7 linked regions of the Homo sapiens genome follow. The protein of the gene in region 4 interacts with the protein of the main gene of each other region in a pairwise test. Each region holds a gene or a part of one and is shown on either strand. Other genes may lie near its edges. The genes, in order: FGFR3, TRIM23, PSMA3, FAM83A, PRDM14, CSNK1E and NCK2.

Evidence for each region.
Region 1: the proteins of FAM83A (region 4) and FGFR3 interact in binary tests that used the Homo sapiens proteins (3 or more experiments, as listed by UniProt).
Region 2: the proteins of FAM83A (region 4) and TRIM23 interact in binary tests that used the Homo sapiens proteins (3 or more experiments, as listed by UniProt).
Region 3: the proteins of FAM83A (region 4) and PSMA3 interact in binary tests that used the Homo sapiens proteins (3 or more experiments, as listed by UniProt).
Region 5: the proteins of FAM83A (region 4) and PRDM14 interact in binary tests that used the Homo sapiens proteins (3 or more experiments, as listed by UniProt).
Region 6: the proteins of FAM83A (region 4) and CSNK1E interact in binary tests that used the Homo sapiens proteins (3 or more experiments, as listed by UniProt).
Region 7: the proteins of FAM83A (region 4) and NCK2 interact in binary tests that used the Homo sapiens proteins (3 or more experiments, as listed by UniProt).

What each region holds. Positions count from the first base shown.
Region 1 is NC_000004.12:1,799,793-1,803,292, reverse strand, and holds part of FGFR3 (fibroblast growth factor receptor 3 isoform 1 precursor), read right to left. Parts: coding exon 3,481-3,500; intron 1,927-3,480; coding exon 1,757-1,926; intron 1,674-1,756; coding exon 1,550-1,673; intron 1,459-1,549; coding exon 1,268-1,458; intron 380-1,267; coding exon of another isoform or gene 229-379; intron 1-228.
Region 2 is NC_000005.10:65,596,834-65,600,333, reverse strand, and holds part of TRIM23 (E3 ubiquitin-protein ligase TRIM23), read left to right. Parts: intron 1-3,153; coding exon 3,154-3,283; intron 3,284-3,500.
Region 3 is NC_000014.9:58,247,843-58,251,342, reverse strand, and holds part of PSMA3 (proteasome subunit alpha type-3), read right to left. Parts: intron 1-3,500. UniProt on the Homo sapiens protein: Component of the 20S core proteasome complex involved in the proteolytic degradation of most intracellular proteins. This complex plays numerous essential roles within the cell by associating with different regulatory particles.
Region 4 is NC_000008.11:123,189,165-123,192,664, reverse strand, and holds part of FAM83A (protein FAM83A), read right to left. Parts: intron 863-3,500; coding exon 695-862; intron 1-694. UniProt on the Homo sapiens protein: Involved in mitochondrial maintenance during adipogenesis. May be acting by playing a role in the maintenance of normal mitochondrial function.
Region 5 is NC_000008.11:70,054,253-70,057,752, forward strand, and holds part of PRDM14 (PR domain zinc finger protein 14), read right to left. Parts: intron 1,150-3,500; coding exon 1,048-1,149; intron 1-1,047. UniProt on the Homo sapiens protein: Transcription factor that has both positive and negative roles on transcription. Required for the maintenance of embryonic stem cell identity and the reacquisition of pluripotency in somatic cells.
Region 6 is NC_000022.11:38,293,434-38,296,933, forward strand, and holds part of CSNK1E (casein kinase I), read right to left. Parts: intron 1,102-3,500; coding exon 909-1,101; intron 816-908; coding exon 676-815; intron 1-675. Other genes in the region: TPTEP2-CSNK1E (casein kinase I), read right to left, coding at 676-815, 909-1,101.
Region 7 is NC_000002.12:105,751,412-105,754,911, reverse strand, and holds part of NCK2 (cytoplasmic protein NCK2), read right to left. Parts: intron 1-3,500. UniProt on the Homo sapiens protein: Adapter protein which associates with tyrosine-phosphorylated growth factor receptors or their cellular substrates. Maintains low levels of EIF2S1 phosphorylation by promoting its dephosphorylation by PP1.

The sequences.
Region 1 (3,500 bases), on a different chromosome or scaffold from region 4:
CCTCCTGTGGGGGTCGCAGGCGTGCGGGAAGGGTCGGCGCAGGCCACAGGGCTCGAAGCGGGCGGTCACCGTGGAGGCTGGAGCTGCCAGCCTTGCCGAGGCGGCCCCGAGTGGAGCGCGAGCCGGGGCGGGAGCGAGCAGGGCTGGGCGTGCGGGGCGTGCAGGGCGCGCGGCCAGGGCCTTGGAGCTGGAGCTCTTGTGCCGGCCGGCATGGGACAGAGTCGTTACCTGCTCGGGGCCCGTGAACGCTCAGCCAAAAGGCCTTCTCGGCCACGCCTATGAAATTGGTGGCTCGACAGAGGTACTCGCCCCCGTCCCGCTCCGACACATTGGCCAGGCGGAGGCGCACGTCGGCCTCCACACTCTCACTGATCCAGGACTGCGGGGACAAGAGACCCGGCTCAGGCACGCCCCCGAGGCAGCCCCGCCGGGCACGAGGCAGGATGTGGGAGACCCCCAAGGTACAGATCGAGGCTGGGCTGCGTCAGCCCCAAAGGCTGCCTGGAGGAGGCGTGGAGGCACTTCACGGTGGCTGTGGTTTCACAGGATGCACGTCTCTGCCTCCACCCCAACAACCCAGCCCAGACCCTCAGACAACCTCTGGTCACTGGCCTGCCCTCCCCCGGGCTCTTGCAGAACCTGCACCCTGGACAGGGCCCGAGGCGGCCTCTCTGGGCGGGGTCTGGACTCCACCCTCGCCCTGCGCCTGCTCCCCGCCCCCAAGAGACCGTCTTCTCTCTGAACAGATGTTTCTCTTTGGGCTTTGAGTGTCGCAACCGTCCCAATTCAGTGGCCCCCACCCGGCAGCCATGGGAACAAAGCTAAGGGCTTCAGGAGGCGGGCAGACAGTGAGCTCGGGCCCCACTGCACACAGCTGACGAGAGCCAATCGGCCAGGTCGGGGCTCAGCCACCGCCTCTGAGGCCCAGAGGGGGCCTGGAGGGCTTGGCCACACTGCCCTCCTGTCCTGGGGCACCACTGCTGCCCAAGCCGCACCCACCCCCAAGAAGCCCGTGGGCAGCTCCATGTCAGGGACTTCAGTGGCTGAGGCTGGCCCTCTGCAGACACGGAAACGGGTCCCAACGCAGCTGCCTATGGCCCTGAGGTGTGGGGTGGCTGAGACTTGGCCCCACAAGCACCCCCACAGCTTCTGCCCCCGAAGCTCCAACCCCTAGACCCAAATCCTCACGCAACCCGCAGCCAAGGGGCACCCTTGGGGCCAGCCCAGGAGCCCCAGCGGCGGCACCCACGTGCACACGGTGGCCCACCTTGAGCACGGTAACGTAGGGTGTGCCGTCCGGGCCCACCTTGCTGCCATTCACCTCCACGTGCTTGAGCCACTGGATGTGGGGCTGTGCGTCACTGTACACCTTGCAGTGGAACTCCACGTCGCTGCCCAGCACCGCCGTCTGGTTGGCCGGCAGCCCCGCCTGCAGGATGGGCCGGTGCGGGGAGCGCTCTGTGGGGGCAGATGACGCTCAGGGGCCACCCCCTCCCTCACCACCACCGCCACTGCCGCCCCCACCCCCGCGCCGCCCCAGGGCCCTCACCCAGCACGTCCAGCGTGTACGTCTGCCGGATGCTGCCAAACTTGTTCTCCACGACGCAGGTGTAGTTGCCGCGGTCCGAGGGCACCACGCTTTCCATGACCAGGCTCCACTGCTGATGCCGCAGCTGCACCGGGACGCGGGCGGGTGAGTGAGCGGAGGCAGCAACCACCGCGCCTGCCAGGCCCAGAGCCACCCCGCCGCGCCCACCTTGATGCCTCCAATGCGGTGCTCGCCGCGGAACTCCCTGCCGTTCTTCAGCCAGGAGATGGAGGGAGTGGGGTTGCCAGCGGCTGGGCAGCGGAAGCGGACGGTGTTGGCGGCCGGCACGGCCAGCAGCTTCTTGTCCATCCGCTCGGGCCGTGTCCAGTAAGGGGCCCCTGCGGGCCGAGGTGCGTGTGAAGGCCATGACCCGAGTGGGAGCAGAGGCCCCTCTGAACAACCCCCTTCCCAGAGCTGCCCCTGCCCATCCCCAGCCTCAGTTTCCCGTCCTGTGTAGGAAGAGGGCGGGATGAGGTTCCCAGGAGCCTCCACATCTTGTCCCCTCCCCGGGGCTTTCTCAGAGCTGGGCCGTGTGTCCCCTCCCCTCCCCTCCAGGGTGCTCTGCCCGGACCTGTGAAGTCACAGGGCACAGGGCATTGTCCAGGGGAGCCCACCTGCCCAGAGAGGCGTGCCAGGGCCAGGCCCACCAACGGGGAGACTGAAGACCCAGGGGGCAGGCCCATCTAGTGGACAAGCCAGGACCTGGGAGCAGTTTACCAGGAGAGGAGCCCAGTCGCCTGCAGAGCCAGGAGCCTTGGAGGCAGCTGGGCAGCATGGGCCCACGGAAATCAAGACCCTACACCACCCTCTGCAGAGCTCCAAGTCTGGCGGGCACCCAGAGACGGTGGCACCCTGGAGGCCCTGCCTCCTCCCATCTCGATGTCCAGGGCTCCCACCACCCCTCTCACAGCCCAACTGGTTTTTCTCCTTCCTCAGGGCTGGTGCTGCCTTCCTGCCGGGACTCCAGGCAAGGATGGGCTGGCATTCCCCAGGAGGGAAGCAGCCCTCCCCTCAGTGAGCTCACTGCCAGCCCCCTCCAGGCACACGCCCATCAGGGGCACTGAGGCCCAGCAAGCAGCAGTGTGGACACAGGCTGGAAAGAGGCACCCCACGGTGCTGAGCTCCCTCCCAGGCCTCCTGGAGACCCCCAGGGTGAGTTCCCCCAGCTGTTTCTCTCATGGACTCAGCCTCCCTTCCTCACCTGCTTACCCCACTGGCCCAGGGACCCAGCGCACACACCATCAGTCCGCAAGTCGTAACTGCCCCCCATGTCTGTGCCACGATGACCCTCACCTGCACGCACTCCCCTCAGAGCTCCCTCCAAAACCAGAAGCCCCACCTCCCCACCCTACAACTTGGCAAAGTCCACCTGCCACCGTTCCAGGCCGGGACGCCAGGCATCGTCCCCGACTGCTCTCTCACAGCCGCAGCCCACCCACCAGCCACCCTCCTGCCAGCCACCCTGCCCGCCACTGGTTGTGGCAGGTGCCCCGGCGCCCTCACCCCGGGTCCATCCACCCCACGGCAGCCACCTGAGTGCCCTGCCCTGCTGCGCTAATGTCTGCGGGGTCCACCTCACCTATAGCCAACACCAGAGCCCCACAGGCCAGCCCTGGCCTCCTCCTGCTCCTGGAACCCCCAGGGCCCTGTGCCTCAGTCTCCCCATCAGCAACACGGTGTCCCCTTGCACCCCAGCCCTGCCACCAGGGTGGGGCATCTAGAGCCATGTCAGTGACCCAGCCCCTCCTGTATCCTGAGGGGACCAGACCTTCGGGGTGACCCCAGGGAGGTTGTTCCGGGGCCTTAGTCCCTCAGCTGCCTGTGAAGGGCAGGGCTTGGCGGTGGCAGCGGGCCCCACCCCGGCTGGCCTGAACCCTGGACCCTGCTCCTACCTGTGTCCACACCTGTGTCC
Region 2 (3,500 bases), on a different chromosome or scaffold from region 4:
CTGTTGGTTTGTATGTCTCATCTTTATGCCAGTACCACATAGTTTTCATTATTGTAGCTGATATGGCTTGGATCTATGTTCCTGCCCAAATCTCATTTCCAGTTGTAATCCCCAATGTTGAAATGGGGCCTGGTTGGAGGTGACTGGATCATGGGGGCAGTTTCTCATGAATGGTTTAGTATCATCCCCCTTGGTACTGTCTTTGCCATAATAGGTGAGTTCTCATGAGATCTGGTCGTTTAAAAGTGTGTGGCACCTCCCCCACCCTCTCTCTTGCTCCTGCTCCTGCCATGTGAAATGCCTCACTCCCTCTTTGCTTTCCACCATGATTGTAAGTTTCCTGAGGCTTTCCCTGAAGCCAAGCTGATGCCAGCATCATGCTTCCTGTACTGCCTGTGGAACTGTGAGCCAATTAAACTTTTCTTTATAAATTACCCAGTCTCAGGTATTTCTTTATAGCAGTGCAAAAACAGAACAATACATTAGCTTTGTAATATATTTTGAAGTAAGGAAGTGTGAGTCCTCCAACTTTTTTCTTTTTCAAAATTGTTTTGGCTATTCAGGGTCACTTGAGCTTCCTTATAAATTTTAGCTTAATTTTTTCTATCTCCACAAAAAACATGATTGGGATTTTGATAGGGATTGCATTGAATCTATATAAATTACCTGGGCTGTTATTCATATCTTAATATTTTATGTCTTTCAATCCATGGACATGGAATGTCTATTTATGTCTTAATTTATTTTAGCAATATTTGTAGTTTTTAGTGTACAAGTCTTTCACCATCTTGGTTAGGTGTACGCCTACATATTAGGTTGGTGCAAAAGTAATAGTGGTTTTTGCCATTAAAAGTACTGGCAAAAGCCGCAGTTGCTTTTGCACCAACATAGTATCTTAAGTCTTTCACCATCTTGGTTGAGTTTATTCCTAAGTATCTTAAACTTTTTTTTCTGTACATGTTCAGAGAAACTTCTTTAGTCATAAACTATAAAAATGATCCCTGAAAGTATAATTTTGATGCTATTTTAAGTAGAATTGTTTCCTTAATTTCCTTTTGGGATTTTTATCATTAATGTATAGAAATGCAACTGATTTTCATGTTGATTTTATATCCTGAAACTTTGTTGACTTTATTCTAATAGGTCTTTTTGTGTGGACTCTTCAGGGTTTTCTACATACAAGATCATGTCATCTGTGAAGAGATATAATTTTACATCTTCCTTTACAATTTGGATGTCTTTTATTATTCTTCTTGCCTAATTGCTCTGTGGGCATCTTCTTGTTCTTTATCTTAGAGAAAAAGCTTTCAGTTTTTTGAGTATGATGTTAGCTGTGGGCATTTCTTATATGGTGTATGTTAACTGAGGCAGTTTCCTGCTACTCCTAGTTTGTTGAATGTTTTTATTATGAAAGGGTATTGAATTTTGTTAAATGCTTTTTCTGCAACTATTGAGATGATTACGTGCTTTTTTTCTCTCATTCTGTGTATTATGCTGATTGATGATGAATAATTCTTGCCTTCCAGTTATAAAGCCCATTTGGTCATGGCGTACAATCCCTTTAATATGTGTTTTTTTTTTTTTTGAGGCGGAGTTTCGCTCTTGTTGCCCAGGCTGGAGTGCAATGGCGCGATCTCGGCTCACTGCATTCTCCACCTTCCGGGTTCAAGCGATTCTTCTGCCTCAGCCTCCTTGTAGCTGAGATTACAGGCGTGCGCCACCATGCCTGGGTAATTTTGTATTTTTAGTAGAGACGGGGTTTCTCTATGTTGGTCAGGCTGGTCTCGAACTCCTAACCTCAGGTGATCCACCCCCAACCTCGGCCTCCCGAAGTGCTGGGATTACAGGCATGAGCCACCACGCCCGGCCTAATGTGTTGTTGAATTCAGTTTGCTAGTATTTTGTAGTTTCCTCCTGGTTGCACCTCATCCTCACTATGTTGGATATGGGGAAGGGCAGGGATGAGTGCACAGAATGCCCCAAATTTTATTACCCCTTTCACTGGAATGCCTTCTTGGTTTTATGGCCTGGGTGCTGTAGTTTCTTAACTGTTCTCTAGAGTTCTCACAGAAGTAGTTCTGTTCCATATATTGTTTTATTTCTGAGGTGTATAACTGGACTTAAGTATAGATTTGGAGCCATAATATACATGGTAATTAAAGCTCATGAAGAGAATGAAAATATGTAGAATGAGAAGGAGGCCTCATATAGACCCTCAAGAATACCAACATTTAAGAGCTGGATTAAAGAAAAATTAGAAGGAACATCCAAAAATGGGATAAAACCAAACCAGGAAAAGTTTGTATCATAAAATCCAAGCAAAGAGTGCTCAAAGGAGTAAGCAAAAATAACACATATATTTTGGGAACTGTTGTAAGGACTTTTATATGTATTCTTAAAAATTAATCCTTTCAAGAATCCTATGTAAATTTTGTACTATTTTAATCCTCCTTTTATGAGATGAAAGAAGTGAAGCAGAGAAATCATGCAGCTAGTAATATATAAAAATGTTCATTATAGCATTATTTGTAATATCATAAAATCAGAAATTACCTAAAATCTATCAGTTGGGGGTTTAGTTAAATTGTGGTTTATGAAATGTAAAGAAGCCATTAAAAGAAAAAGGTTGGTCAATATGTATTGACAGGATTCCATAATATACTGTTGAGTGAAACACATTAGTTTCAATGTGTGGGTAATACTTTTTTAAAAAAAAATTTGTTTTGTTTGTGTATGTTGGCCAGTATGTGCATGGAAAGTGTCTGGAGGGATATACATCAGATTCATAGTAGAAATTTCTGGGAATTGAGCAGCACTTTTTCATTTTAATTGATTTACCCTTATTGTGATTTTTTTAGTATAGCATAAAAACATGTTTAAGATTTAGAGGATTCATTTGAGTTAGAAAATCTGAGAAAATTAAGTGGGTATGTATATTCTGTTATACAAAGACAAAGTGGTCAGTTTTACTAAGGCAAGATTTAGCCATGGGGAAGGATTTCATCTTCTTGAGATCAGACTCAGTATTTTGAGGAATACAATTCAGATTGCAATGGTTGAGGAATGAATAGGAGATGTAGAAATAATAAAGGTGCTAAATGCTATTACTTTCTAACTGCATGTCAAACATATTTAAAAATATTTAAATTGTAGGATAATCGAGTTCACATTGGACCAAAAATGGAAATTCGGGTCGTTACGTTAGGATTGGATGGTGCTGGAAAAACTACTATCTTGTTTAAGTTAAAACAGGATGAATTCATGCAGCCCATTCCAACAATTGGTAAGTATGAATATTGGTTTTTACCTTAATAGACAAACCCTAGCTTACAGCCAAGTTCTTGGGGTCTTATTTGATACTGATCTGTCATGGTGGTGGGCTCTTTTCTGGCTCTAAGATATCAGCATCTCAGAGAAAAAATGCAAGATTGTATGACTATGGGATTGAAATGTGGATGGGGATAAAAAGAAGAAACAGAGTATTGGTGGGACAGTTGGAA
Region 3 (3,500 bases), on a different chromosome or scaffold from region 4:
CTGCACACCAGTCTGTGCAACAGAGTGAGACCCTGTCTCAAACACACACACACACAACCTCAAGTAAAATGTGGAGAAATTACTTGTTGCCATTTCAAGATGAAAATGTGTTACACTTTATTCTTCTATTCCTTTTTGATAAAGGTAGTTCTGATCGGAAACAATAGAGACAAAATAAGCAATGCTTGATTGTACAGTTTTCTGGTAAAATTATCTCAACTTTCTCTTTCTTCTTTTTTTTAATTTTAAAGAAATGGAGTCTTGCCATGCTGCCCAAGATTGAATTGAAGTCTGAGGCTCAAGTAATCCTCTCACCTCAGCCTCAGTAGCTGGGACTACCGGCACAACTTCTCTGTTTTGGATAATAGCATCACCAAGCTCTACATCCTCCATGTTGAGCTTCTATTTACTATTAATTTTTTTCTTCAAAATTTCCTTCATGTCCACTTCTTTACAATAATTATACCAGCATTGGGATCCTTATAATTTCAGGCCTAGATTACTACACCATCTTTTCTACTTCTCTAATCCGTTTAATCTAAGACCAGCCTAATTCCTAGCTGTGTTTCATTTTGCCATAGTCAGAATCTAAAAAGGGATCCACAATCTAAAAAGCAGGGGAATTGTGTTATTCACAGGCCTCTTAAAATCTGATGAAACTATGGCATTTCCTCCCAGAAAAATGAACAACAGATGCACACAACAAATTTTCTAAGAATTTCTGACACTCCTTCCCCAACACTTTAGGTGTCTTCCATGGCTCCCCTTGCAAGTTTAAACTCCTAAGGGTCTGGCAGAACCCCCTGAGCATATTCAATTTCCTGTTATAAATTCTGTACTCTACTGGTTACCTCACTGTCAACCTTCAAAAACCTCATGTTCATTTTTGATTCCATGTCTTTGAGGTTATCCTGGATGCTAGAATACATTTCCTCTTCACTACTGCCTATTTAAATGAATTTCCCCAAAAGGTTTGCAAACTTAGTTGAACTCAAGCAGTACAGGTCAGAATGTAACCTCAGGACTTTGGAAGGCCCAAGTGAAAGGCTTGCCTGAGGCCAGGAGTTCAAGACCAGCCAGGCCAACATTTTGAAACTCTGTCCCTATTTTTTTTTTTTTTTTGGAGATGGAGTCTCGCTCTGTTGCCCCAGCTGGAGTACAGTGGCGTGATCTTGGCTCACTGCAACCTCCATCTCCCGGGTTCAAGTGATTCTCCTGTCTCAACCTCCCAAGTAGCTGGGATTACAGGCGCGCACTGCCATGCCCGGCTAATTTTTTGTATTTTCAGTAGAGACGGGATTTCACCATGTTGCCCAGGCTGGTCTCGAACTCCTGAGCTCAAGCAATACACCTGCCTCAGCCTCCCAAAGTGCTAGGATTACAGGCGTGGCTCACGCCCAGCAGGAAGCCTGTCTTAATTATCTCAACTCAACATCTTCCACACTGTTTAAAACATTCTTGAAAATCTGGAAATCTCTGAAATCCTTTCAGGCAGTCTTCGAGGTCAAAATTATTTTCATAAGAATTCAAAGACTTCGGCTGGGTGCGGTGGCTCACACCTATAATACCAGCACTTTGGGAAGCCTAAGCAGGCGGATCACTTGGGCTCAGGAGTTTGAGACCAGCCTGGGCCACATGGTGAAACCCTGTCTCTACAAAAAATTTGCCAGGCGTGGTGGCACATGCCTGTAGTCCCAACTACCTTGTGGGGCTGAGGGAGGAGAATAGCTCGAGACCAGGAGGTCGAGTCTGCAGTAAGCTGTAATCACACCACTGCACTCCAGCCTGGGTGACAAAGCGAGATCCTATGTCCTGCCCCCAAAAAAAGTTTTTTTTAAAAAAAAGGAATAATAAGCCAGGCGCAGTGACTCACACCTGTAATCCCATCACTTTGGGAGGCCAAGGCAGGAGGATTACTTGAGCCCAAAAGTTCAAGACCAGCCGAGGCAACATAGTGAGTGAGACCATGCCTCTTTTTTAAAATAAATAAACATTTTTTTTTAAAATAAGAAACTAGCATTTGTTCACTTTGGGTGTAGTATCAAAGGACAGGTTAATACATCTTTAAAAAGAAGAACTTTTAGGCCGGGCGCCGTGGCTCATGCCTGTAATCCCAGCACTTTGGGAGGCTGAGGCAGGCGGATCACCTGAGGTCAGGAGTTCGAGACCAGCCTGACCAACATGGAGAAACCCTGTCTCTACTAAAAATACAAAATTAGCGGGCCATGGTGGTGCATGTCTGTAATCCCAGCTACTTGGGAGGCTGAGAGAATTGCTTGAACCTGGGAGGCAGAGGTTGCGGTGAGCCAACATTGTGCCATTGCACTCCAGCCTGGGCAACAAGAGTGAAACTACGTCTCATTTTTAAAATCCTAGCTTTTTCTGAGACAGAGTCTCTGTTGCTTAGGCTGGAGTGCAGTGGTGCAATCTTGGCTCACTGCAACGTCCACCTGCCAGGTTCAAGTGATTCTCCTGCCTCAGCCTCCCAAGTAGCTGAAACTACGACGTGTGCCATCACACCCGGCTAATTTTTGTATTTTGTTATTTTTTAGTAGAGACAGGGTTTTACCATGTTGGCCAGGCTGGTCTCAAACTCCTGACCTCAGGTGATCCGCCCGCCTCAGCCTCCCAAAGTGCTGGGATTACAGGCGTGAGCCACCACGCCCGGCTGCATTTTTTCTTCATTCAGGAAAAAACACATTCGTTTTTAAGGTTTCAATTTTTTAAAGATATTTCCTCATATTTGCATAAATCTGACTTTTTAAAATCGTATTTAGGCTGGCCACAGTGACTCACGCCTATAATCCCAGCTCTTTGTAATCAACGAGAAATATAGGACTGGGGCTACTCTCTGGGAGTCCGAGGTGAGCGGATCACTTGAGGCCAGGGGTTTGAGACCAGCCTGGCCAACGTGGCAAAACCCCGTCTCTACTAAAAATGCAAAAATTATCCGGGCATGGTGGCACATGCCTGTAATCCCAGCTACTGGGGAGGCTGAGGCAAGAGAATCACTTGAACCCAGGAGGCGGAGGTTGCAGTGAGCCAAGATCGTGCCACTGCACTCTAGCCTAGGTGACAGAGTGAGACTCAGGTCTCAAAACAGAAACAGACATAGAAAAAATCTTTGCTGAATCGAACATGTGACTAATTGCATAAGACATTTAAAACACAAGATGTATGAGAAATAAAAAATAACAAGGTCACAAACCTAATGGCTGAGGAAGCCTATGATACAAATCAAGAATTTGAAAATGGAAAACAAAAAGATGATAATGAATGTGATTTATACACTCTGCAACATGGAAAATCTAAGTGGATAATCCTGGAATCAACGAGAAATATAGGACTGGGGCTCATGGAAAGCATCTGGCCTAGAAAGAGATCTGGAAATGAATAAATTGAGATTTGGGGACATATACTAATTTGTACCAAAGTAACATAACAAAGCCTAATCGCCAAAAATATATAAAATAAAAGGAGACATGTAATACCTGGTTAAA
Region 4 (3,500 bases):
CTTGCCTGAACTAGAGGAGACTGATCAAAAGAACTCTGAGGGCCACCAATCAGCTGTTCACCCAGGCCTACTCATGAAAGCTATGGGTGGTGTTCACATTTGAATTAGTTGTCCTCAAATTTATGTGATGAATCAAACCCTTATCGCTGGGTTTCTTTTCTCTTTGCCAGGAGAGGGAAGTACGGGGTTCAGTTAAGTCCAAGAGGATCAATGTCTTGTTGGGACCAGGGAGTTCTGAACATGCACCCACAGACCCTGGAGGTTGCCTGCCCTGTAAGATGCAATCCCTGGGCTTCCCCAGCTGAGAGGAGAACTGGAGTACATGGCAGAGATGCTGCTCACCAGATACCCATGACCCTTTACATTTCCCAGCATCCGTGCATCTGGGTAAGGTCAATGAGTTATAAGAGAAAGCGATGGAAATCTCCTCCAGGTCAGATCCTGGAAACATCCTGCAGAGTCTCCCAGCCTTCTCTTTCCCTGTCATGGTTATCTTAGAGGCCGTGTATTTCTCATGATGTAGCTACAATATGGAGGAGGGCCATCTGACCTACATAGGAGTTTGTTTGAGCAAGAAATGAACCTTTATTGTGTTAAGCTATTAACACAAGATGAGGGACATTTGTTACTATTGCATAGACTATCCTATCTGGGCTAATATGAGTACCCTTAGGACTCTCATTGGGGCCCCTACCTTGAGGTGACTGTCAGAGATCTGGACTTTGTCACACATCTCCTGGAAGAGCTTCACACCTCCCTGGTCCAGGAGCACACAAACGAACACCCCACGCTTGTTGGCTGCCTCTAGAATGTCACAGAAGATCTCCACATCCGTGAACACATCCATCAGGATGACCAGGACCTGGGCCAGGGCAGAGTGCTCAGTTACCAGAAAGGTCAGGGGCAGGTGCTAACTGGTTTCACCCAAACTGCCTGAGTCCCAGTGGGCCTGGGAGAGCTGTTCCCATTGGGCCAGAGGGGAGAGGATGGGGTAGAGTGGGTCTGACTGGGCAGGATTAATGGAAGGAAAAGGAAGAGCTGGAGTGGAGGCCCCTGCGCCTGTCCTGATACCATCTCTCCAGTCCCACCACCTATCTGTTGGCCCCTATGCCCATTGTGGGAGTGGGGAGTGCAGAGGAGGAAGGGAAAAGTCTAGAAAGAGAAGGAGAGCAGAGAAGAACAAGAAGAAGCATCTCAACCGGTTCCAGAAGAGGAATAAAGTTAAGGTTATGGATTCTCAGCCACTTGGAGCTAGAGGGCACACTATGGCCACTGATTTTCAAATGCTGTTAAGCCGTGGAATCCTATCCTCAAACAAAATCCCATGTGGAGGCACCGTATATAAGCGCCTAGAGCAAGCTGCTCCCCGTGGGATGGAGAAGGGAGTCACGCTCTACCCACAGCTACTGCATCATGTGTCACAGTAGAAACTGGGGAGGGGAGTTCTAGACCTTCAGTGAGCAGGAGAGACATCTGTGTTCCTCCTGCCAAGCATTCATTCTCCCTTCTTCTGTCAACAGCATCCCAATCTGACTTTAAGTAATTGCCTCCCCTCCACAATCAATGTGGTTTGGAAGGGTCTATTGCCATTCTTTGACTGGATATGGGGAGACCACATGACCAAGGCTAGACCAATGGGAGCATGGCATCCCCTGTTGGCCACAGACATTGGTCCAGAGGTGGTCACATGATCTAAGTTATTCTAATAAGAGTCAGCCCAGGACTTTAGCTGGGACTCCTGGGAAAAGGAGGTGTTCTTTCTACGAGGTTGCTTAGCTGGTATTTTATAAGCAATGGCTGCTGGCAACCATTTTTGCTACCTCTTGGGGAGAGCCTGCCTGACAATGAAGCCATCCCTGGAGAAAGCAGCCAGGAGGTAGAGACAGAGTCCCAGCATTGTCATTTGGACACCTGGTTCCAGCCATGCCTGAGACCAGTGCCACCCTTGACTTTTCCACTGTGGATGTTAATGAATGTTTCTCTTCTTCTTAAGCTTGTTTGGGTTTACTCTCTGTCACCCAGTCATGAGTCCTTTCTAATACCTTAATTGTGATATACTGACAAGCAGCTTATTAGGCAGTCATTAAAAATGTTAATTACTGCCGGGCGCGGTGGCTCACGCCTGTAATACCAACACTTTGGGAGGCCGAGGCGGGCGGATCATTTGAGATCTGGAGCTCGAGACCAGCCTGATCAACATGGTGAAAGCTCGTCTCTACTAAAAAAAAAAAAAAAAATTAGCTGGACTGGTAGTGCACGCCTATAGTCCCAGCTACTGGGGAGGCTGAGGCAAGAGAATCGCTTGAACCCAGGAGGCAGAGGTTGCAGTGAGCCGAGATCGCACCACTGCACTCCAGCCTGGGTGACAGAAAGAGACTCTGTCTCAAAATAAAAAAATAAGAAAATACATAAAAATTTAAAATGTTAATTTTCTTTCTTTCTTTCTTCTTTCTTTCTTTCTTTTCTTTCTTTTCTTCCTCTCTCTCTTTCATTTTTTTTCTGTAGACATGGGGTTTCACTATGTTGCCCAGGCTGGTCTCGAACTGTTGGGCTTAAGCAATCCTTAAGCCTCAGCCTCCCAAATTGCTGGGATTACAGGAGTGAGCCACCCCACCTGCTCCATTATAATCTTATGGGAGCACTGTCATAGATGTGGTCTGTTAGTAACCAAAATGTCATTATTCCGTACATGATTGTAGGTAAGCCCAAAGCAAAAACTAACAGTCATGTTAGGATGGGGGATGTGAACCCAGAAAATAAAACAGGGCTCAGTTAATTTAGAAAGTTTATTTTGCCAAGGTTGAGGACATGCCCGAGGAAGTCCTGACGACATGTGCCCAAGGTGGTCGGGGCACAGCTTGATTTTATACATTTTAGGGAGACATGAGACATCAATTAATAGATGTAAGAAGTACTTTGGTTCAATCTGGAAAGGTGGGACAACTGGAAGCAAAGGCAGGAAGACTCAAAGCCAGGAGGGAGCATCCAGGCCACAGATAAGTAAGACAAAAACTGTTGCATTCTTTTGAGTTTCTGATTAGTCTTTCCAAAGGAGGCATCAGATATGCATCTATCTCAGTGAGCAGAGCGGTGACTTTGAATAGAATGGGAGGCAGGTTTGCCCTAAGCAGTTTCCAGCTTGAGTTTTCCTTAGTGATTTTGGGGGCCAAAGATACTTTCCTTTCACAGGGAATACGGCCATTCCCTTTCTTCAAGATTACCTGTAATAATAAGTTTCCACTATCTTTCTAATCATTGCAATATATTTTTTAAAACCACCGCCATCTGGGAAGTAGCCAAGGAAAGAGAGGTGTCTTACTGGCAGGCCAAACTGATGGCTGGTATCCACTTGGAATCAACTTTCTGTGATGTGGATGGATAGCTGGACAGGGGAGGGAACTCCTCAGAGATTGCTCACCCTGGGCAGGAAATCGGAAAAGATGTTCTAATAATGAGGCTGTGATCATTAGAACCATGGCCCTGTAATCACACAATTAATT
Region 5 (3,500 bases), about 53 Mb from region 4:
AGCATCCTTCACAGATTAAAGTAGTAATAATAGCAGTTAACATTCCAGTAGTACTTTTATGTTATGCCAGGCACTGTTACAAGAGTTTTATATACTTTACTGATGTTATCCAACAACTTGGTAAAGACTATTCTCCCCAGTTTATCAATGTGGAAACTAACAGGAGTTCATGGACTTGCTCAGGGTGGCACAGCTAGGTAAGCACCAGAGGCAGGATTTGAAACTTGGCCATGTTTGTGTTCTTAAATACTATGAAATAGTGATTTTTTTTTTTTTTTTTTTTTGGAGACGGAGTTTCACTTTGCCACTCAGGCTGGAGTGCAGTGGCACAATCTTGACTCACTGCAACCTCTGCCTCTGGGTTCAAGTGATTCTCCTGCCTCAGCCTCCCAAGTAGCTGGGATTACAGGAACGTGCCACCATGCCCAGCTAATTTTTGTATTTTTAGTAGAGATGGGGTTTCACCATGCTGGCCAGGATGGTCTCGAACTCCCTATCTCCAGGCACCTGCCCACCTCAGCCTCCCAAAGTGCTGGGATTACGGGCTTGAGCCACCACGCCTCCCCACCCCCTCCTTTTTTTTTTGAGACAGTGTCTCACTCTGTCACCCAGGCTGGAGTGTGCAGTGGTGCAATCTTGGCTCACTGCAACCTCCACTTCCTGGACTCAAGCAATTCTCCAGCCTCAGCCTCCCAAGTAGCTGGGACTACAGGCATAAGCCACCGATGCATGGAAAATTTGATTATAGGTGTGAGCCACCACACTCAGCTAGTGCTTTTAAATACTATGTAATAGGTCATCAGGTCCCCATAAATTTGGAATGTATTTTATTACATGTACTCTAAATGCCAGCTTGGCAATAGGAGGTTGGTTATATTTGACCATCTTTAGCAAACTTGAGCATATTTAGGGGTGGAAATGAGGACTGGGCTGATATTTGACTAACATTTACCAAGAACTCATTAAGCCAGGCTTTGTTTCAAGTTCTTATCCATAGACACTCAAGCAGAGCTCAGGACACATCCCTTAGTAAGAGGTTCCATTTACCTTAGTACAATACACACACTGGTATGGTCTGTCTCCAGAGTGGACTCGCATGTGTTTGTTTAGGCTGGAAGATTGAGAGAAACATTTCCCACATGTAGAACACTAAGGTGAAAAAGAAAAATATAGTTGAAATCACACCTTCCTCTAACAAGTCCATTTCAACCTTGCGTTTACCTGGGGTTAGAGAAGAACTCTTTTCCAATTTTTTTCTTTTTTTTTTTTTTGAGACGGGATCTCAATTTGTTACCCAGACTGGACTGCAGTGGCACAATCACGGTTCACTGCAGCCTGGAACTCCCAGGCTCAAGCGATCCTCCCACCTCAGCCTCCTGAGTAACTGGGACTACAGGTGCGTGCCACTAAGCCAGCTAACTTAAAAAATTTTTTTTTGTAGAGATGAGGTCTCACTATGTTGCCCAGCCTTGTCTTGAACTCCAACAGATCCTCCTGCCTTGGCCTCCCAAAGTGCTAGGATTATAGCCTTGAGCCACGGCACCCGACCTGAGAGAACTCTTGCTTCAGATGTGGAATGTGGGAACTGAACAGGTTTGTGGTATATGGCAGAGGCCTGAATTAGTCCTGCTCTCTCAACAGGTAGCTGTGTGACTACAGAACATTGGTTAAATCTGGAATCTTAGTTTCCCGATCTTGCTCATGGGCAAAATACCTGCTCTGCCTTCCTCACAGAGCTATGAGTAAACTACAAGTACTGTGCAATTAACTCAACAATTATCTACGACTTACAGAGTACCTACTGTGTGCTCCACACTGCTAGAAACCAGGAGCTAGAAATCAAGGAGGGGTGACGATGAACATGTAAGCCAACATGGTAATGCACAGTAGCAGATTATCTGAGACGTGTTGAACTTGCATGAAGAGGTTAATATTTTGTTCACACGCTGTGAATAATTAATATTGTTTCTTGACCCTGGCAACTCCTCTCGAAACTGTCTCAGGAATTCTACACCAGGTGAAGTAAACTACCAGAGAGGTGCAAGCACCGAGAGTTTGCCAGGGATAAAGCAGAAGGCCTTTGGTTTTGACATCACTTTTAAGGAAATTACACTAACTAAAGAGAAAAAACAATTTTTCTCTGAGAAAGGTTTCTGTGCTTTCACAACCTCTTTCCAGGCATGCTTATGGGGCAGAGGAGAGAGCAAATCTTTGTATTTGTTTATTTATTTATTTTTATTTATTTTTGAGGCAGAGCCTCGCTCTGTTGCCCAGGCTGGAGTGCAGTAGCATGATCTCGGCCCACCGCAACCTCTGCCTCCTGGGTTTAAGCAATTCTGGTGTCTCAGCCTCCCGAGTGGCTGGGACCACAGGTGCGCACCACATGCCCATCTCTACAAAAAATACAAAAAATTAGCTGAGCATGGTGGCATGCACTTATAGCCTCAGCTCAGCTACTTGGGAGGCTGAGGTTGGGTGATTGTTTGAGCGTAGGAGGTGGAGGTTGCAGTGAGCTGAGATCATGCCATTGTACTCTAGCCTGGGCAACAGAGTGAGACTGTCTCAAAAAAAAAAAAAAAAAAAAAGATTGTTCCTCCACTGTACTGTAAGAGCACCTCGTCTGTTGAAGGGTAAGCCATCATCTCACTATCACCAGCTTCCTCATCAGTCCTGTCATCTACTGACCTCCTGGTTGACAGCCCTCCAGTTTCTTTTCTTTTTTTTTTTTTTTGAGACGGAGTCTCGCTCTGTCACCCAGGCTGGAGTGCGGTGGCGCGATCTCGGCTCACTGCAAGCTCCGCCTCCCAGGTTCACGCCATTCTCCTGCCTCAGCCTCCCGAGTAGGTGGGACTACAGGTGCCCACCACCACGCCTGGCTAATTTTTTGTATTTTTAGTAGAGATGGGGTTTCACCATGTTAGCCACGATGGTCTTGATCTCCTGACCTCGTGATCCACCTGTCTCGGCCTCCCAAAGTACTGGGATTAGGCGTGAGCCACCACTCCCGGCCTCCAATTTCAAAGAGAGCAAGCATTCTATACATCTTCTGTAATTTGGTTTTTGCTTGATAAGACAATATTTTTTTTTTTTTTTTGGGATGGAGTCTCACTCCTGCCACCCAGGCTGCAGTGCAATGACACAGTCTCGGCTCACTGCAACCTCCGCCTCTGGGGTTGAAGCAATTCTCCTGCCTCAACCTCTAGAGTAACTGGGGCTACAGGTGCCTGCCACCACACCCGGCTAATGTTTTTATATTTTTAGTAGAGATGGGGTTTCGCCATGTTGGCCAGGCTGGTCTCGAACTCCTGGCCTCAGGTGATCTGCCCACCTCAGCCTCCCAAGGTGCTGAGATTACAGGCGTGAGCCACTGCGCCTGGCCAGTAAGCCATAATTTATATAATCAATTTTGTGTTGATGAACATGCAGTCTCAAACTTTTCACTATCAGAATACTGGATAGTTTTCACTTTTGCCAGTCTAATAAGCGAGAAATACCTTCAC
Region 6 (3,500 bases), on a different chromosome or scaffold from region 4:
GGTGTACCCCCACCCCCACCTCCAGGCAGCCCCTCAAGCTGAGGGAAGGCCTGTGTGATTCCAGTGACTCTAAGATGTCCCTGTCTGTAGCTAAGAATGTTGCCCAGGGAGGCAAACCTGCTACCTAAGTAGATGGCCAATGAGGGTTCTCTCGCAGGACTCCCTCCTCGCCCACAGGCAGGAGGACGAGGGCAGGGCTCCCACCCACCTCTGCCAGGCCACCTGCCCTGGGCAACTACAGATTCCCCCTTCCCAAGTGTCCCCATCCAAACATAGCCCCAAAGAGGATGGGACCTCACTGCCCCTACACCCCATGCTCTTGCCAATGCTCACAGGGGCTCCTGGGGGCTCCCTGATGTCAGGGAGCAGCAACACCTCATCTCTGAGCCCCTGCTGCCCACCCTGGCTGGGCCCCTGGCAGCGAGGACTGGAGCCCAGCTGTGCCACTTGCCAGGGAATGTTACTGCCCTGAGCCTTGGTGAATGACTTTGCTCAAGAGGGCTCATCAGACCTCAGAGGATTAAATGAGGCCAAGTCCTGGCTCTACAGAAGGGGTTCACTCCAAGGCAAGCAGCGTCGATGGAAAGGGAAGAACAGAGCCACGGCCTGACCTCCCACTGGGGGGTCTCTAACTCAGTTCTGAGGCCCAGAGGGACTGGCAGGGGGGCAGCTCACCTGTGAGGCTGGGATCCGGGAGACCTCTTGCCGCCCAGTGAGGTCTGAGGAGGAGACGTTGGCGGGCGCACCCCTGTGCAGCCTCATACTCACCTTCCTCTCCCGGTCGACCCGCGAGATCGCTCTGGGAGAAGTATTGCCTGGAGGGAGAGTGGGAAGCCACCCTCAGAGTAGGCACAAACAGAGCCCCCCACCCACCCTGAACCCAGCCCACTGCCTGAGTCCCTGCTCACCAGCCGGCTGGATGCGGGAGGCTGGCGTGGAAGCCACGGGCTCGGCGGCACTGCGGAGCCGGTTGGCAGTGGCCCCCGTGGGTGGGCCAGGGGGCAGGGCTCGGGTCGCGGACCCCCGTAGCTGCCCCATCCTCTCCTCGCGTTCGTGTTCTCGCCGCTCCCGGTCCACATCCTCGGGATTCCGGGCTGCACCCTGCAGGGATGCAAGAAAAGACACCAGTCAGCCCCAGAGGCCAGGGTGCTCTGGGCCCAGCAGCCCTGCAGGGCACAGAAGGGGAGGGAGGCCAGGTGGATATCTCAGAAACCTTCTGCTCCAGCCTCCCTGACAAGCGCGGGAAGCCAAGACCCACAATCACACAGCACAGAGACACGAAGCCACACAACCACCAGAGGAAGGAGAAAGCAGGAGTCTGGGGGCAGAGGGAGGTCAGTCTGCCCTGCTCTCCTGGGATGGAGCCAGAGAAAGGACAACTAATGCGCCCAGGATGATCAAGAGCACCTCTTGGCCCTCCTGACCTGGGGCTGGGCCTGCCCTGGCCCCCCTCTGTGTACCAAGAGCCCTTAACTACTCAAGGTTGCTAAACCGAGCAGGAAAGCTGTTTAGAGGCCTCTAGCAGACTGGCTAGGGGTGTCCAGAGGGGGAAAAGAACAGGCCCAGAGTCACAAAACTAGTGGAAGGCTGGGCTAGGACTCAGACCAGCTCTCCCGGTACCTAGCCAGGGGCTCTTCTCATCAGGGAGCTGTCCTTCCCCCTGCCGGGACCTGGCAATGGCTTCTGGCAGGTGCAGTGGAGGCCACAGCCAGGAGGCCCAGGGAACCCACAGACACCGCCTGCCTTGGGACAGAAGCTCAAGGGGAGCTGGAGAAGAAAATGGGGCCACGTTCCCCACGGAGGAAGAAGAGGCCCAGCAGGCAAAGCTGGAGCAGAAGGGGTACCCTAAGCCCCCAGGTGCCCTGCTGTCCAGCCACTGCCGCCCCTGGTGCAGGAGGAAGTGAGAAGGGGCCAGAGAAGAGCATATGTGGGGGCAGCGCCCGACTGCGTTACCTAGTTCATCCTGGGGCCGTCCACAGGGAAGGGCAGGGGGCTGGCAGGAAGGGGGCCGCATCTGTGGAGGAGAGAGCTCTGGGCTGAGTTGGGGGCCTGCTCATGGGCACAGGGTGTGGTTCCTGCAACCCATGTCTCTCCCAGGAGACTGGCCAAGAGGTGGGGGTGGGCCCTGTCTTTAAGCAACTCCAGGAAGTAGTGGCTAGGACCAGAATGATCCCTGAATCTTAGTGAGGCACCAAGGCCCAGAGAGGCCTTGTGACCTGCCCGGGGTTGCACAGCTCAGGGCAGAGCTAGGGTCTGAACCCAGGCCTCTGCCACCTAGTCCCACTCTGCTCTCTGCACCCCAAGAGGTCACTGTTCAGAGTCTTGCCTTAGAACACTCTAGAAGATGCATCTTCCCATCCTCCCACCCAGAAGCCTCTCAGGCAGGCCTGGGACCACCGGGGCTCTAACTCCTGACCTCCGGTCCTCACCCTGGGCTCCCACTCGGTTGCAGGCTGGCCAACAGTGACTCAGCCAGAGCCACAGCAAAGCCTGGGGAGGAACACGAGCTGTGGCACCTCCGTGCCGAACCTTCTGCGGGCAGAGTCACATCAACCCTGTGAGGCAGGTCAATCTCATTTCCATGCTTGGGATACAGAGGCTGAGTGACTCACTCCAAGGTGTGGAGCCCTGCAGCCAGCAGCCAAGCAGAGGGCTGGAGCCCCTGCCCTTTGTGAGCCCAGCAGGCTCAGGCCATTGCCAGCCCCGAGGCAAGAAGTGGGCGACTCTCCATGGTCCCATCCAACCCATAGGACGCAAGAAACACACAGCAGGGAGCTCTCTTGGCCTTTATTGCCCATAGAAAACATAAAAGGTCAGCAAAGTCACACGAGCATCCACCCGTCATCATATGGACCTCTGTCCTTGGCTGTGTTGAATTCCTTCCCGGCCAGCTGACTGGACCTCGGAACACAGTGGCTGTATGTGCTGAGAGTGGCTTCCAGGCCCCAGGGATCCACAGATCCCAGCACCCCGGTGCAGCCAACAACACAGGGTGTCCTGTCTACTGTTGGGTAGCATGGGAAGGGCCTGGCCTCAGGGTGAAGGTTCCCATTGCATGTTTTCCAGGTGCTTCTGCCAGGGGACTGCTGGAGGTGGTTCAGCTCACTACAGTGGCCGTGGCATTGAGTCAGAGATTGGCAAAGGATAAGGCTGTGGGTGCCTCTGCCCAGCTTCTAACTCCAGGGCCTGCCTCAAGAGGGACTTCCAGGAAGGCGGTCAGACCAGCAGCAGTGGGTGGAGAGGTGCTCCTGGCCTGGTTGGAAAAGAGATCTTGCTGGCTAGACAGTCTTGTGAGACTCCATAAGGGAGGAACCTAGAGCAGTGATGTCCACAGAACGTTCTGGATGAAGGAAATGGTCCCATCTGCCTTGCCGGATGTGGTGGCCACTGGAGGGCAGTGGCATGATCTCAGCTCACTCCAATCTCTGCCTCCTGGGTTCAAGCGATTCTCCTGCCTCAGCCTCCCAAGCAGCTGGGATTACAGGAACACACCACCATGC
Region 7 (3,500 bases), on a different chromosome or scaffold from region 4:
TATAACCATCTTGCTAGATTCTGCAACCAAGGTTGTTTCACTTTTTTTTAATCGTTTGATGAAAATTCACTCTTCACCTATATTAAATTTCCCAAAAACTGTCTCAAAATAACTCCCTGAATCCCTTGTTATTTCTTGGTCTCTTAAAAATATTCAAGTAGCTTGTGCTTTTTATGTCAATGTCTCCAAGCTGGCTTCCATCATGCAGAGCAGTTTAAAAAAAAAAAAAAAAAGTTGTTGGGGGAGCTGCTTTCTTACCAATGCAGCAGCTCCCCCCAACCTCCCACAGACACACACAAACAGGAATACAAGCTTTTAAAGTGATTGTCCTTAAAATGAAGACAGCTGATGAGAGGGAAAGCATGAAAGAGACAGCAACTGCTCTCCTCTCCTGTAGCCAGGCTCATAAGTGACATAATTAAAATATTTGTTGACTTGCAGACATCCTTAAACACGCAACCAAAATTCTTAAGATATTAAATGGGAGACATAACCGTTAAGGAAAATCGAAGGAGACATTGATGGACTTTGTCCTCTAAGATGGGCATGGGCGTCTTTCTAGGCATCTCCCTGTGATCTCACCACTTTCTAACTTACTTTTCACTTCTCACTTCCTGGCTGCCCCCACCATTGCTGGGAAATTAAGCATGTTGAAGTAAACAATTCTTTGCCACCACATATCCTGGAACCTGCTACGTGTAGAAGTGGCCACATGAGAGGTAGTGTGACTGCAAATCTAAACCTGTGAGTTGAAAGAAACTGCCCAAATTGCAGCCCCTCTGAAACTTGGAACATGCAGGAGCTTCTCCCAACAGAGACGCCAGACTCACCGTCCTATCTCAGTCCCATCTGCTCCAGGGAGGGCTGCTCAACACTCTGATGGCCCCAGTGGCCCTCCTAACACAAAAGGGTAGGTTCGAGAAGCTGGCACAGACAACTCACTTGGAAGAGCAGCCAGTGTCAGAGTTCCCATCAGGACCTGTAGCAGCAGTCTCCCAAGAATCTACATTTGGACTTGACCTGGCCTCTCTCACAACCTCAGAAGCAGATTTCAAAGCCACCTTGGAATTCTTCAAGACCTTCCCAGATGTCATAAAAGCACAAAGGAAAAGGATTTGGTATGTCCTGCTACAAGGTTTTCAGCAAGAACCTACCTGCCTACCTTCACTTCAACAACAGCAACTCATTAAGGAAAAACAGAAGCAGCAAAAATGGCCTTGTGCAAGCTATTCCAACAGCACAAAAGTCCGGGGGCCACTTGGAAGAGTGAGAAGACACACACTCCTGTTTTCTCAGCCCCCAGTGTGGAGGAGACAAGGGTGGGGACCCACCACACAGCTACTGATGAAGAGGCACATCACACAGGCATTTACAATGGCACCTGCATGACCACTTGAGCTAATACACTGTGACTACAACAGAAAATACTCCCCCTCATCCAGTGCCACTGCAGTTCCCTCCAGCAGCGGTTCTCCCCAGGGAATGCTGGTGTTTCCTGCAGAATTGGAGACTTGGGCAGGTGGAGGACCACCAGCCTACGGAACATAGCAAGGGGGCTGGGGGAGAGGAGCAGCCAGGCCAATGGTCCTCAGTGATGACCATCCAAGGCTTCCCCTCCTCCAAGGTACCAGTTATTCATTAGGCCCTTCCAAAGTCCAGGGCCTTCCCCAACCACTTGGCTGATAAGGCGTTCCCAGAATGAACCTGTATGCAAGCTACACTCCCTATCAATGATTTTCCATCAATGTTTCTCAAATCTTACACCATAATAAAAGTTTACAGTTCTGTTTTATGTATTTTCAGATACATCTTAATGAAGGGATGGTGGCTAGCTTGGTCAGAGTCTAGCTGTGGAACCTAAGACATGGCAGCCTCAGTGCCTCCCTTTCCTTAGCGATGAAGATACAAACAGAAAGTACCACACGTTCTGTTGGTGAGGACTCAATGAGTTATTACATGGAAAGTGCTTAGAACAGTGATTACAATGTGTGTGTGTGTGTCTGTGTCCGTGTGGGAGAGAAGCTAATGTTCACTTTAAAAATACATGATTTTAGCTTGTACTTAACATGTTATCAGAAATATGAATACTACAGATGACTGGATAAAGAAAATAGACTATTCAGCCATAAAAAAACAATGAAATCATATCTTTTGCAGCAACACAGATGGAACTGGAGGCCATTATCCAGACGGAACCAGAGACTTGAAGGGTGATGGGGTAGGAAGGGGTGGATGATGAGAGATTACTCAATGGGTACAATGTATGTTATTTGAGTGATGGATACAATAAAGGTCCTGAATTCACCCTTAGGCAATTTATGTAACAAAATAACACCTGTACCCCATCACTGTATACAATGTTGTTTTTTACCTTTCCTATGGTGCTGAACACATTTTTTAAAAGGAAATGTGTTGAATACTGATATACAAAAATGTTATTTTACACTGGTAACTTCTAGAATTCAAACCACATTTTAAGATATTTGTAAAATGAACAAGGTATTTTGATGATAGATATTAGTTTTAACTGAATCTGATTTTAGTGCTCTAAAACATCATGTGCTGAGTGTCTGAAGGATGACATTACTCCTCATATTTAAAAAGGTTACACCTTTCCCAGTAAAGCATAATAATAATGACCATTATAATTATTCTACATTGTTTCCACTTTGTCTCTTTAGCTATCTCAACTTTGGAAAACAGACAGCAAATGAGGCTTAAATCATGAAAAGTGTATAGACTCACACTCCGCAACAAGGCTGCCACTAGTCGCGTGTGGCCAAGGCCAATCAAAATGCAGCGAGAGGCAGCCAAGAGGTGCAGTAAACGTATATACTATATGCTGAATTTCAAAGCCCTCACGCAAATAAAAGAATATGAGTTATCTTATTAATTACATTTTATGTTGATTACACATAGAGTTTATATATATATTGGGCAAAATATAGGATGAAAATTAATAATACTTGTTTGGTTTTACATTTTTAATGTGGCTACCAGAACATTATGATTACATCTGGGGCTTGCATTTGTGGTTCACATTGTATTTCAAGGGGTCAGCACTGCTCTTGACAATCCATCAGTTCAAATGGCATTTGCAGGGAGACAGTCCATATTAAAACACACATACGCACCATTTTCTGCAGTTAGTCTCTTCTCCTCCCATGACAGAGAGCTGGGCCCATGCTCAGTTCCATGCAAAGCTGTAGTGGGGTAGCCCTGCCATTACTGCACAGGAGAACCCTGAACCAGTCCCAGTGGAGAGAGTCTTTAAAAACAAACTGATTATAAACTTAGTTTTGTTATCACAATTAGCAAACCATCAGTGGGTGGCCACAGATGACTTGTAGCTCAGCATGTGTGTATATGGGGAAGGGGATATTTAGATGCTGGGAGAAACAGAGAGGCAGCCCAGTCGTGCAAGCCCATGACTGCCATGCTGGGGACTTGAGTCACTGACCCAAGTACGATGGAGAGCCACCGTGTGCAGGTCATGGCCA